2 linked regions of the Homo sapiens genome follow. The protein of the gene in region 2 purifies or fractionates together with the protein of the main gene of each other region. This does not show direct contact. Each region holds a gene or a part of one and is shown on either strand. Other genes may lie near its edges.

Evidence for each region. Proteins that work in one complex are often made in the same cells at the same time.
Region 1: the proteins of TXNDC12 (region 2) and MZT2B purify together in Homo sapiens (affinity purification with mass spectrometry; 2 studies listed by BioGRID and IntAct, with this or other methods). This does not show direct contact.

The regions. Positions count from the first base shown.
Region 1 is NC_000002.12:130,185,151-130,189,510, reverse strand, and holds part of MZT2B (mitotic-spindle organizing protein 2B), read right to left. Parts: intron 1,005-4,360; coding exon of another isoform or gene 925-1,004; exon of another isoform or gene 1-924. UniProt on the Homo sapiens protein: Required for the recruitment and the assembly of the gamma-tubulin ring complex (gTuRC) at the centrosome.
Region 2 is NC_000001.11:52,044,266-52,049,901, reverse strand, and holds part of TXNDC12 (thioredoxin domain-containing protein 12 precursor), read left to right. Parts: intron 1-5,636. UniProt on the Homo sapiens protein: Protein-disulfide reductase of the endoplasmic reticulum that promotes disulfide bond formation in client proteins through its thiol-disulfide oxidase activity.

The DNA.
Region 1 (4,360 bases), on a different chromosome or scaffold from region 2:
GTCCCCTGCCTGACTCAGTGTTGGGTCCCCCATTTCATCCCCCCAGTGTTTCCTTTGTCCTGACTGAGGAAGTGCCTTGACTACTCTGACCTAATCAGCTACATGTTCCCCCTGCAGGCTCAAACCCTGGCTGGGGCTTGCATGTTACCAGACACTGATACACGTTTAGGTTGTTGCCTGGAACACTGAAAGATCTGACATGTTGCTAAGCACGTGGAAACTGGTCCCACCCCAGCCAAATTCCTTGCACCCTCATAGAAACTCCACACCCCACCCCCTCAGTGCGGTGTGCCTAGGCACAACCTCTTTCCTGGCTGTCCCTCGTGAGGGTACACTGCAGCCCCCTCTGTATGTAAGCTCCCTAACAAATGCTTTGGACTGACCACCCTGGCATTAAGTGTTTCTTCCTTTGGAATCCCAACTGGCTCTCATCCTGGAAAGGTTTGGGGCAGTCCCTTGCAGGAACTCCCCTGCCATCACTTTTAGGGTGACTCCAGACAAGGGTTCAGCCAACAGAACACCCAGCCTCAATCCTGGTCCTTCCCTGGCCTCTTATCAAGTGTAGTCAAATACCCTGCAATGGGAAACTGGATTCCTGGAGAAAAGATGCAACCGGGTGTCTAGAGATCCATTAGGTCATTTCTGTTTCACCATCTGTCACCCTGAACAAGCAGAGACTCCTGTGTCTGAGATGCCGTGGACCCCCGCTCTTCCAGAGGTACCTCCAGCTCCCTTTCTATGCTAATACCAGAAAATTCTCCCCATACCCTGCAGGGATAGGACGGCCCTCCTTTTGAGTTTCCGGGGAGTTCTTCCTCAGAGAATGAGATCTTTGCTCATTCTTGCCTGGTGGTGGTGAGGGTTACAGCGGTGTCATGCTTGGAACTCTGTCAGCTTGTCACACTTGACTCAACAAAGATGGAGTCAGGGTTGCCCTGAGCCAAGGAGGAGCGCAGTCAGGAACACGTGGTGGGTGATGATTGGCCACCTCAGCCCAGCAGTGACTCGTGAAAAAGGCACAAAGCAGACAATAGCCACCACGCATCTCTTGTGGTACAAACTGCCATAATTCTAGTCCCCACTGACTGGTCAAGGGGCAAGGATTCTGTCTTCCATGAGCAGACGGGCCCCGCCACCCTGCAGCAGCTCCCACACTGGGCCAGCATCCTCCTCTGAGGCCACAGTCCCTCCGCAGGCCAGGCCAGACAGAGTCAGATCTTCTGTAGCCGCAGCCTAATCTGGGTGCTTAGGTGCCCATGCGCTCTCAGCTCCCCACAGCACGCAGCATGGCAGGCCGCAGACTTGGGCCTGACTCAGAGTCGGCTTCCCTTCAGCTTGCTGCCATCTGAGCTTCCTCTCCTCCCCTCAGCAATGACCCAGTCCCTTCTGGAAACAAGGATGAGAGGGAAGCAGAAAAGAGCAAATAATGCTTTTTTTTTTTTTTGAGTGGTGGGGGAGGGGGGTTTAGAGACTGAGTCTTGCTCTGTCACTTGGTCTAGAGCACAGTGATGCAATCACAGTTCATTGCTGCCCCAAACTCACGGCCTGGAGGGATCTTCCTGCCTCAGCCTCCGATGTAGCTGGGACTACAAGCATGGGGCCACACCTGGCTAATAATGCTTATCTTTAAATCTGACAGGGTTGACAAACCCTGGAAATGTGAAACCAACATAACTTTAAGCCATAACTGATACTAAGAAAATCCTGGAAATCTTCAGGAATTGTGCGCTCTCAGGGTTAGTGGGGAGCCCTGTTCAGGCCTCCTCACTTTATGAAGGATGAGAAGGCCCAGAATAGAATGGCCTGCAGTGCCTTGCAGTGGGGAAACCAGCTTTGCTTAGCCCTGCTCCCTCGGGAGGGGCTACTGAGTCAGACGGGCTAGACAGTGGGATTGAACCAAGTGTGGCTGCAGGTTGGGGTGTGAGGGCGGGGTGACTGATGCCCCTACGCCTGGTCCCTGGAGGGCCCTCCTAAACGCCAAAGATAGTCAATGACCATTGAATGTTGAAAACAGCCTGGCTCAGCAGGGGTCAGTGGCTCATGCCTGTAATTCCACTACTTTGGGAGGCCAAGGCGGGAGGATCCTTTGAGGCCAGAAGCTAGAGACCAGCTGGGACAACACAGTGAGACCTCCATCTCTACAAAAAATTAAAAAATTAGCCACGTGTGGTAGTGTGCACCTGTAGTCCCAGCTACTCAAGAGGAGGTGGGAGGATTGTCTGAGCCCACGAGGTTGAAGCTGCAGTGAGCTATGAGTGTGCCACTGCACTCCAGCCTGGGTGACAGAACAAGACTGTCTCAAAAATAAATAAATAAATAAAAAGTAAAAGAAAATGCAGAATTAGCTCAAATACTTTAATCTAAAATATCCAACGTATTATTTCAATACGTAATCAGTACATAAGTTATTCATAAGATGTTGCATTCACCTCTGTTCTTTTTCTTGTTTCTTTGTAGAAATGGGTGGGGTCTTGCTATTTTGCCCAGGCTGGTCTCAAACTCCGAGCTTCAAGTGATGATCCTGCCTCAGCCTCCCAAAGTGCTGGGATTACAGGTGTGAACCAATGCCCAGCCTCATTCACTTTGGGGTTTTTTGTTTATTTTTGAGACAGGGTCTCACTCTCTCACCCAGGCTGGAGTGCAGTGGTGCAGTCACAGCTCACTGCAACCTCAACCTCCCAGGCTCAAGCAATCCTCCAACCTCAGCCTCCCAAGTAGCTGGAACTACAGATGTGTGCCACCATGCCCTGCTAATTTTTGTGTTTTGTAGAGATTGGGTCTCCCTGTGTTGCCCTGGCTAGTCCTGAACTGCTGAGCTCAAGAGATCCAGTAGCTGTGGACTCCCAAGGTGTGGTGGGTTTTTTGCATTCCCTTTTGTACCGGTCATTTGGCATCTGCTGTGCATACCACACGCAGTGCAATGACCATGCCAGCCATGTGTGGCTCAAGGTTCCTGTATCAGGCAGCACAGCTCAGGTGAGATGGCTTCCACACTCCAAACGTCATCTTACATGCATGCTCTGGACAACTTTTAAAACGTATAGTTTCTCTAAACTTAAATAGAACGCTTGACTGAATTTATTTTTCCCTCAATGACTCCAGACTCTCACCAAGACAAGCATTGCCCCTCTGTGCTTCTGGGGTTTTCTATTTCCCCTTCCCTGTGGGTATGAGTGAATCTGGTGGTGGTTGTCCCCACAGGCTGTCTGGATGGCTGGGGGACAGGCATCCAGAGGACCCAGGGTGCCTGCTGCAGCTCAGAGGCAAGCTTGAGAGGGCCTGGCCCACAGCCTGGAGAACTCCACACCCGAGTCCTGTGGGAAACCTATGGCCTCCATGCCCCCCAGCCGGATCACTCCAACAACCCCCCTTATGTCCTCCACCCCAGATTCTGCCATTACCAGGGCAGCCGGAGCTCTGTGTGGTCAGATGCTGTAACATGTGGGCCTCAGAGAGCTCTCAGCATTCCATCTGTGGCCTCTGCTTCTCACTCAGCAGCACACTCCTGGTGTGGCCCCACATCTGCCCCATTCCCCTCCACCTCCTCCTCAGGTTCCACTCTATCTCCACAGGGCCTCGGTGCCCTCATGTCCTGGCTTTCTGCCACCCAGCCTACAGGACCTGGGCTATGCTTCCAGGACAGAGCCCTCAAGGAACAAATGACCCTGAGGGTCCCAGCACTCCAGGCCACTCCTGTCCTTGGGTAAATTCTCTCGGAGCCCCCATTCGCTCACACAGCACCCCCTAATCCTCCTGGCCCCTCTATGCCTGCATTTCCAGTGCCACAACCCTCACATACATCTTGACCGTGCCCCCCCACCTGCCTCCTCCCGCCCCCGGCCTACCAGCACCTGGACAGCGCTCTGCCTCACCCACGCCCTCCCACTGCCCCAGCTCACACGTGTGGGGCTCTGCCGACCCCCCTCCTGCTGTAACCCTTGTTACCCCCCTGTGTAACCCTTGCTGCTCTCTGGGCTCTGAAGCCTCCTCCCATCTCCATTGCTAGCGGTTTTTCTTTTTTTTTTTTTTTTGAGACAGGGTCTTGCTCTGTTGCCCAGGCTGGAGTCCAGTCACAAGCTCTTGGCTCACGGCAACATCCCCCTCAGGCTCAGGCGATCCTCCCACCTCAGCCTCCCAAGTAGCTGGGACTACAGATGGGCGCCACCACCATGCCCACCTGGCTAGTTTTTTTTTTTTTTTGAGACGGAGTCTCGCTCTGTCCCCCAGGCTGGAGTGCAGTGGTGTGATCTCGGCTCACTGTAAGCTCCACCTCCCAAGTTCACGCCATTCTTCTGCCTCAGCCTCCCGAGTAGCTGGGACTACAGGCACCTGCCACCACGCCCAGCTAATTTTTTTTGTA
Region 2 (5,636 bases):
AATTTCATGTGTTAGTCATTAATATTGTTACTATAATATAATTATTACATAAAATAAGCACTTAGGCTGGGTGCAGTGGCTCACGCCTATAATCCTAGCAGTTTGGGAGGCCAAGGCGGGCAGATTGCTTGAGGCCAGGAGTTCAAAACCAGCATGGGCAACATAGCAAGATCCTATCTCTACCAAAAAAAAAAAAATGCAATTGCTTAATAAGTGGTGGTGGTGATTATTACTATTATAAAAAATTCCAATGTAAATTTTAATATGAATTCTCAAGGAAATTTTGTACATGCAGTAGACTATTTTGTTGTTGTTGTTGAGACAGTCTTGCTCTGTTGCCTAGGCTGGAGTGCAGTGACGCAATCTCAGCTCACTGCAACCTTCCCCTCCTGGGTTCAAGCGATTCTCTTGCCTCAGCCTCCCAAGTAGTTGGGATTACAGGCACCTGCCACCATGCCTGGCTAATTTTTGTAGAGTAGAGACGGGGTTTCACTGTGTTGATCAGGCTGGTCTCAAACTCCTGACCTTGTGATCCACCCGCCTCAGCCTCCCAAAGGCTTGAGCCACCACGCCCAGCCACAGTGGACTATTTTCACGTTATACCTCTAGACTTACTCTAGGGATATTGCAGCAGAACAGCTTGGGAAGTACTGGGGTATTAGAAAAGAATGCTAATTAGGAGTCAGGAGACTTAAATTTTGGTTGTGGTCTACCTTGGAGTGTTGGATAACTTCTTTTCTAGGCCTCAGTAAAATAAGAGGGTTAGACTAAATCTCTAGTGTTGTGACTCTTTAAATTTATTAAAGTTAAATAAAAGTAAAAGTTGAGCTCAGCTGGATTGTCTACATTTCAATTGTTCTGTAGCCACATGTGGCTAGTGACTACCATATTGAACAGCTCATTGCAGTAAGTTCTACTTTACAGTGCTGTTCTAGGTCTCTATTAGTAATAACCTTACGTGATTGTAAGGTTTGACACCTAGCTTCTGAGTGGCCTAGGTACATGGAGAATTTATTTTAATTAATTAATTAATTATTATTTTTTTGAGACAGAGTCTCACTCTGTCACTCAGGCTGGAGTGCAGTGGCCCCATCTTGGCTCACTGCAACCCCTGCCTCCTGGGTTTAAGCGATTCTCCCACCTCAGCCTCCCAGATAGCTGGGATTATAGGTGTGCGCCACCACACCCAGCTAATTTTTAAATTTTTGGTAGAGATGGGGTTGGCCAGGCTGGTCTTGAACTCCTGAACTCAAGTGATCTGCCTGCCTCAGCCTCCCAAAGTAATGGGATTACAGGCATGAGCCACTGTGCCTGGCTGAGAAATTTTATTTAACCTTATATTAATCTAGCTTCCTTGACTCTATCTTGTTTGGCATTGGACTTCTGTAAGTCCTTCTGTTTTAGGCATGCTTTTTTTTTTTTTTTTTTAAAGAAAAGAAACAGGGTCACCCTCTGTTGCCCGAGCTAGAGTGCAGTGGTGCCATCATAGCTCACTGTATCCTCGAACTCCTGGCCTCAAGCAATCCTCTGACATCAGCCTCCTGAGTAGCTGGGACTATAGGCACATGCCACTGCATCCAGCTAATTTTTAAATTTTTTTGTAGAGGTGAGGTTTCTCTATGTTGCCCAGACTGGCCTCGAACTTCTAGCCTCAAGTGATCCTCCTGCCTTGGCCTCCCAAAATGCTGGGATTATAGGTGTGAGCCACCACAACTGGCTAGGTATGCTTTTATAAGCATCGTAGAGGTACTTTTTTCTTAAACCAAGTCTGACAATTTTTGTCTTTTCACTTTAATTGGCAAGTTTAGTCCACTTATATTTGTTGTGATTATTGACAGAACAGCTCTTGTTTCTGTTATCCAGTTTCTACTGTTTTTTTCTGTGCTTTTTTTTCTTTTTGCCCTTTCTTTGGGGGTTGAATATTTGCTTGTTCTTATTTTATCTCCTTTATTAGTTTGGAAGTTGGCATTCTAGTTCTTTTCTTTTAGTAGTAACTCTTGAAATTTTACTTGCATACTTAACAAAATCTAACACTATTATACCCCCAGTGGTAAGAGGGACTTTAGAACATTTAATTTCAATCACCCACTCTTCACTTATAAGGAGTTGTCTCATATTTAGTTCTAATTTTAATTTTTTTTTGAAACTTAGTTATTTATTTTTTAGAGATAGAGTCTCATCCTGTTGCCCAGACTGGCCTCAAACTCCGGGGCTCAAGCAATCCTCCTGACTCAACCTCCAGAGTAGCTGGGACTACAGGTGCACATTGTGCCTGGCTTAGTTCTCTCTCTCTTTCTTTTTTAACTCTACAAATCGGGCATTATAAATTGCTATACAGACAATATTTACATATTTATCTACATGTTTGCTGGTTTATTTGCTCACTATTCTTTGTATCTAGGCCTTCCTCTGGGATCATTTCCTACCTGAAATATGTCCTTTAGCTATCCTTTTTATTTTCTCTGATTCTCTCCTAGGGGACTATTTCATACTTCTTCCTGTCTTTTCAAATCTCCAATACTTCTTCCATAGTCCTTGCTCTCAGTTAGTAATTATAGTCCCTCTTTACCAGAAGACAGAAGGAATCGGAAGAGGCCTTTCAAAAATTTTCACTACTGCATTTACCCACTAGTGTTCATACATGCTCCCTTTCCTGTTGTTACCTGATAAACCATCATTATTCCTAGCAAAGGCTAATCCCTCTACTTGAGTGCTAAATCCCGTCTCCTCTCACCGACTCACCAATATTTTACCAGTGACTCTCCCTTCTAATGTTGTATTACCCCTTTTTCCTATCTTTATTGTATCATTTCTATCAGCTTTCAGTTGTCCCTGGTACAGCAAAATTCTTTTCTTTTAGAGACAGAGTCTCACTCTGTTACCCAGGCTGGAGTGCAGTGGCATGATCTTGGCTTACTGCAACCTTCGCCTCCCAAGTTCAAGCAATTCTCATGCTTCAGCTTCCTGAGTAGCTGGAATTACAGGTGTGTGCCACCATACCCGGCTAATATATATATATATATATATATATATATTTTTTTTTTTTTTAGTAGAGATGGGGTTTCACCATGTTGGCCAGGATGGTCTTGATCTCTTGACCTCGTGATCCGCCTGCCTTGGCCTCCCAAAGTGCTGGGATTACAGGCGTGAGCCACCGCGCCTGGCCTAATTTTTGTATTTTTAGTAGAGATGGGGTTTCACCATGTTAGGTTAGACCAGGCTGGTCTCGAACTCCTGACCTCAAGTGATCTGCCTGCCTTGGCCTCCAAAAGTGCTGGGATTACAGGCGTGAGCCACGACACCCAGTCAAAAATTTTTTGAAAGAGTTGTATGTATTCGATCTAATTTTTCTCCTTGGACTGTCTTGGTCATGCTCTAATCATGCTTTCATCCTCACTGTAAATGGCAGCTCCATCCTTCTACTTGTCCAGGCCAAAAACCTTAGAGTGATCCTTGACTTCTCTTTTTGCTCTCATATCCCATATCCATAGCAAAATCCTGCTAACTTTGCCTTTGAAATATATCCAGAACCTATTGGTATCTTACCCCTCTACCACCCCAGCTGGTCCAGTCCACTATCATCTCTTGCCTGGATTATTGTAGTAGCCCCTTTATTAGTCTCCTTGCTTTTGCCTTGCTCCCCTGTATTAGTTTGCTAAGGCTACAGTAAGAAAGTACCACAAACTGTGTCTTTTTTTTTTTCGAGACAGAATCTTGCTCTGTCACCCAGGCTGGAGTGCAGTGGGGCAATCACAGCTCACTACAGGCTCAATCGATCCTCCTGCCCCTGCCTCCCAAGTAGCTAGGACTATAGGCATGCACCACCACACCTGGCTAATTTTTCTATTTTTTATAGAGATGGGGTCTCACTATGTTGCCCAGGCTAGTCTCAAACTCCTGGGCTCAAATGATCCTCTCACCTCGGCCTCCCAGAGTGCTGGGATTACAGGCATGAGCCACCATCCACAGCCCAAACTGTGTCTTAACAGAAATTTATTGTCTCACAGTTCTGGAGGCTAGGAGTCCAAAATCACAGTGTCAGCAGGATTGTTTTTTCTGAGGGCTGTGAGGGAAGGATGGAAAAATCACTCAGCTTATCTAAAAATGTCTATTTTGCTCTTACTTTTGAAAGATAGTTTGTTACAATTGACGAACCAATATTGATACATTATTATTAACCAAAGTCCCTAGTTTACATTCGGGTTCATTCTTGGTGTTGTACATTCTATGTGTTTTGACAAATGTATAATAACATATGTATTCGTTTGCTAGGACTGCCATAACAAATACACAGACTAACCGGCTTAAACAATAGAAGTTTATTTTCTTACAGTTCTGGAGGCTAGAAGTCCAATATGAAGGTCTTGGTAGGGTTGGTTTCTTCTTGTGGATGGCTGTCTTCTATGTCTTCACATGATCTTCCCTTTAAGTTTGTCTGTGTCCTAATCTCCTCTTCTCATAAGGATAAGGGCCCACCGCAATGACCTCATTTTACCTCAGCTACCTCTTTAAAGACTTTAAGATATGAACTTTGGAGTGGGGTGGGGGACACAATTGAGGCCATTAACAGTATGTATCCACCATTACAGTTTCATATAGAATAGTTTCACTGTTACAAAAATATCCTGAGCTCCACTTATTCATCTCTCTCCCCCAGAATCCCTGTTAACCACTGATCTGTTACTATCTCCATAATTTTGCTTTTTCCAATGTCATGTAATTGGAATTATGTAGTATATAGCCTTTTCAAATTGCTCTTTCCACTTAGTATATGTTTAAGGTTCTTCAATGTCTTTTCGTGGCTTGATTACTCCTTTCCTTTTATCACTGCATATTCATTCACTTTGTATTTCAACAAAACTGTATTTTTAATTTCTAGAAGTTCTGTTTGATGACTTCACAGATTTGACTTTCTTTTTTTTTTTTTGAGACAGAGTCTTGCTCTGTCACCCAGGCTGGAGTGTGGTGGCGTGATCTCAACTCACTGTAAACTCTGCCTGCCAGGTTCAAGCAATTCTCCTACTTCAGCCTCCCAAGTAGCTGGGACTATTGGCTTGCACCACGGCACCTGGCTAACTTTTTTGTATTGTAGTAGAGACAGGGTTTCACCATGTTGCCCAGGATGGTCTCGAACTCCTGAGCTCAGGCAATCCATCCACGTCGGCCTCCCAAAGTGCTAGGATTACAGACATGAGCCACCACACCTGGCCAGATTTGACTATTTATTTTGCATGCTGCATGCCTGTTTTTGTGATTCCATGTGTTATTTCTTTAAACATTTCATGCATAGCTATTTCTGTATTTTGTGGCTGATAATTCTAATATCTGAATTCCTCAGGGATCAAAATCTGTTTGTTGCTTGTGTTCTTGTGGCGACTTCTTTTCTCACATTTTTGGTGATCCATGATTGTGAGCTCATAATGGTTGTTCTTCTTCATTGGCTATCCTGGAAGCCTAAAGTGGAGAATCTTTTCCTCCAGAAAGTTTTGGCATTTGATTCATCTGAAAACCAGGGGGTACCACTCACGTGGAATCACTTTAGTCTCTTTTGAGGGTTGTGTTAATGTGGGAGTTTCAGATTCATCTCCATTTTGCCACATCATAATGGACGCTTGCGTTCAGGGCAGCCTCACTTG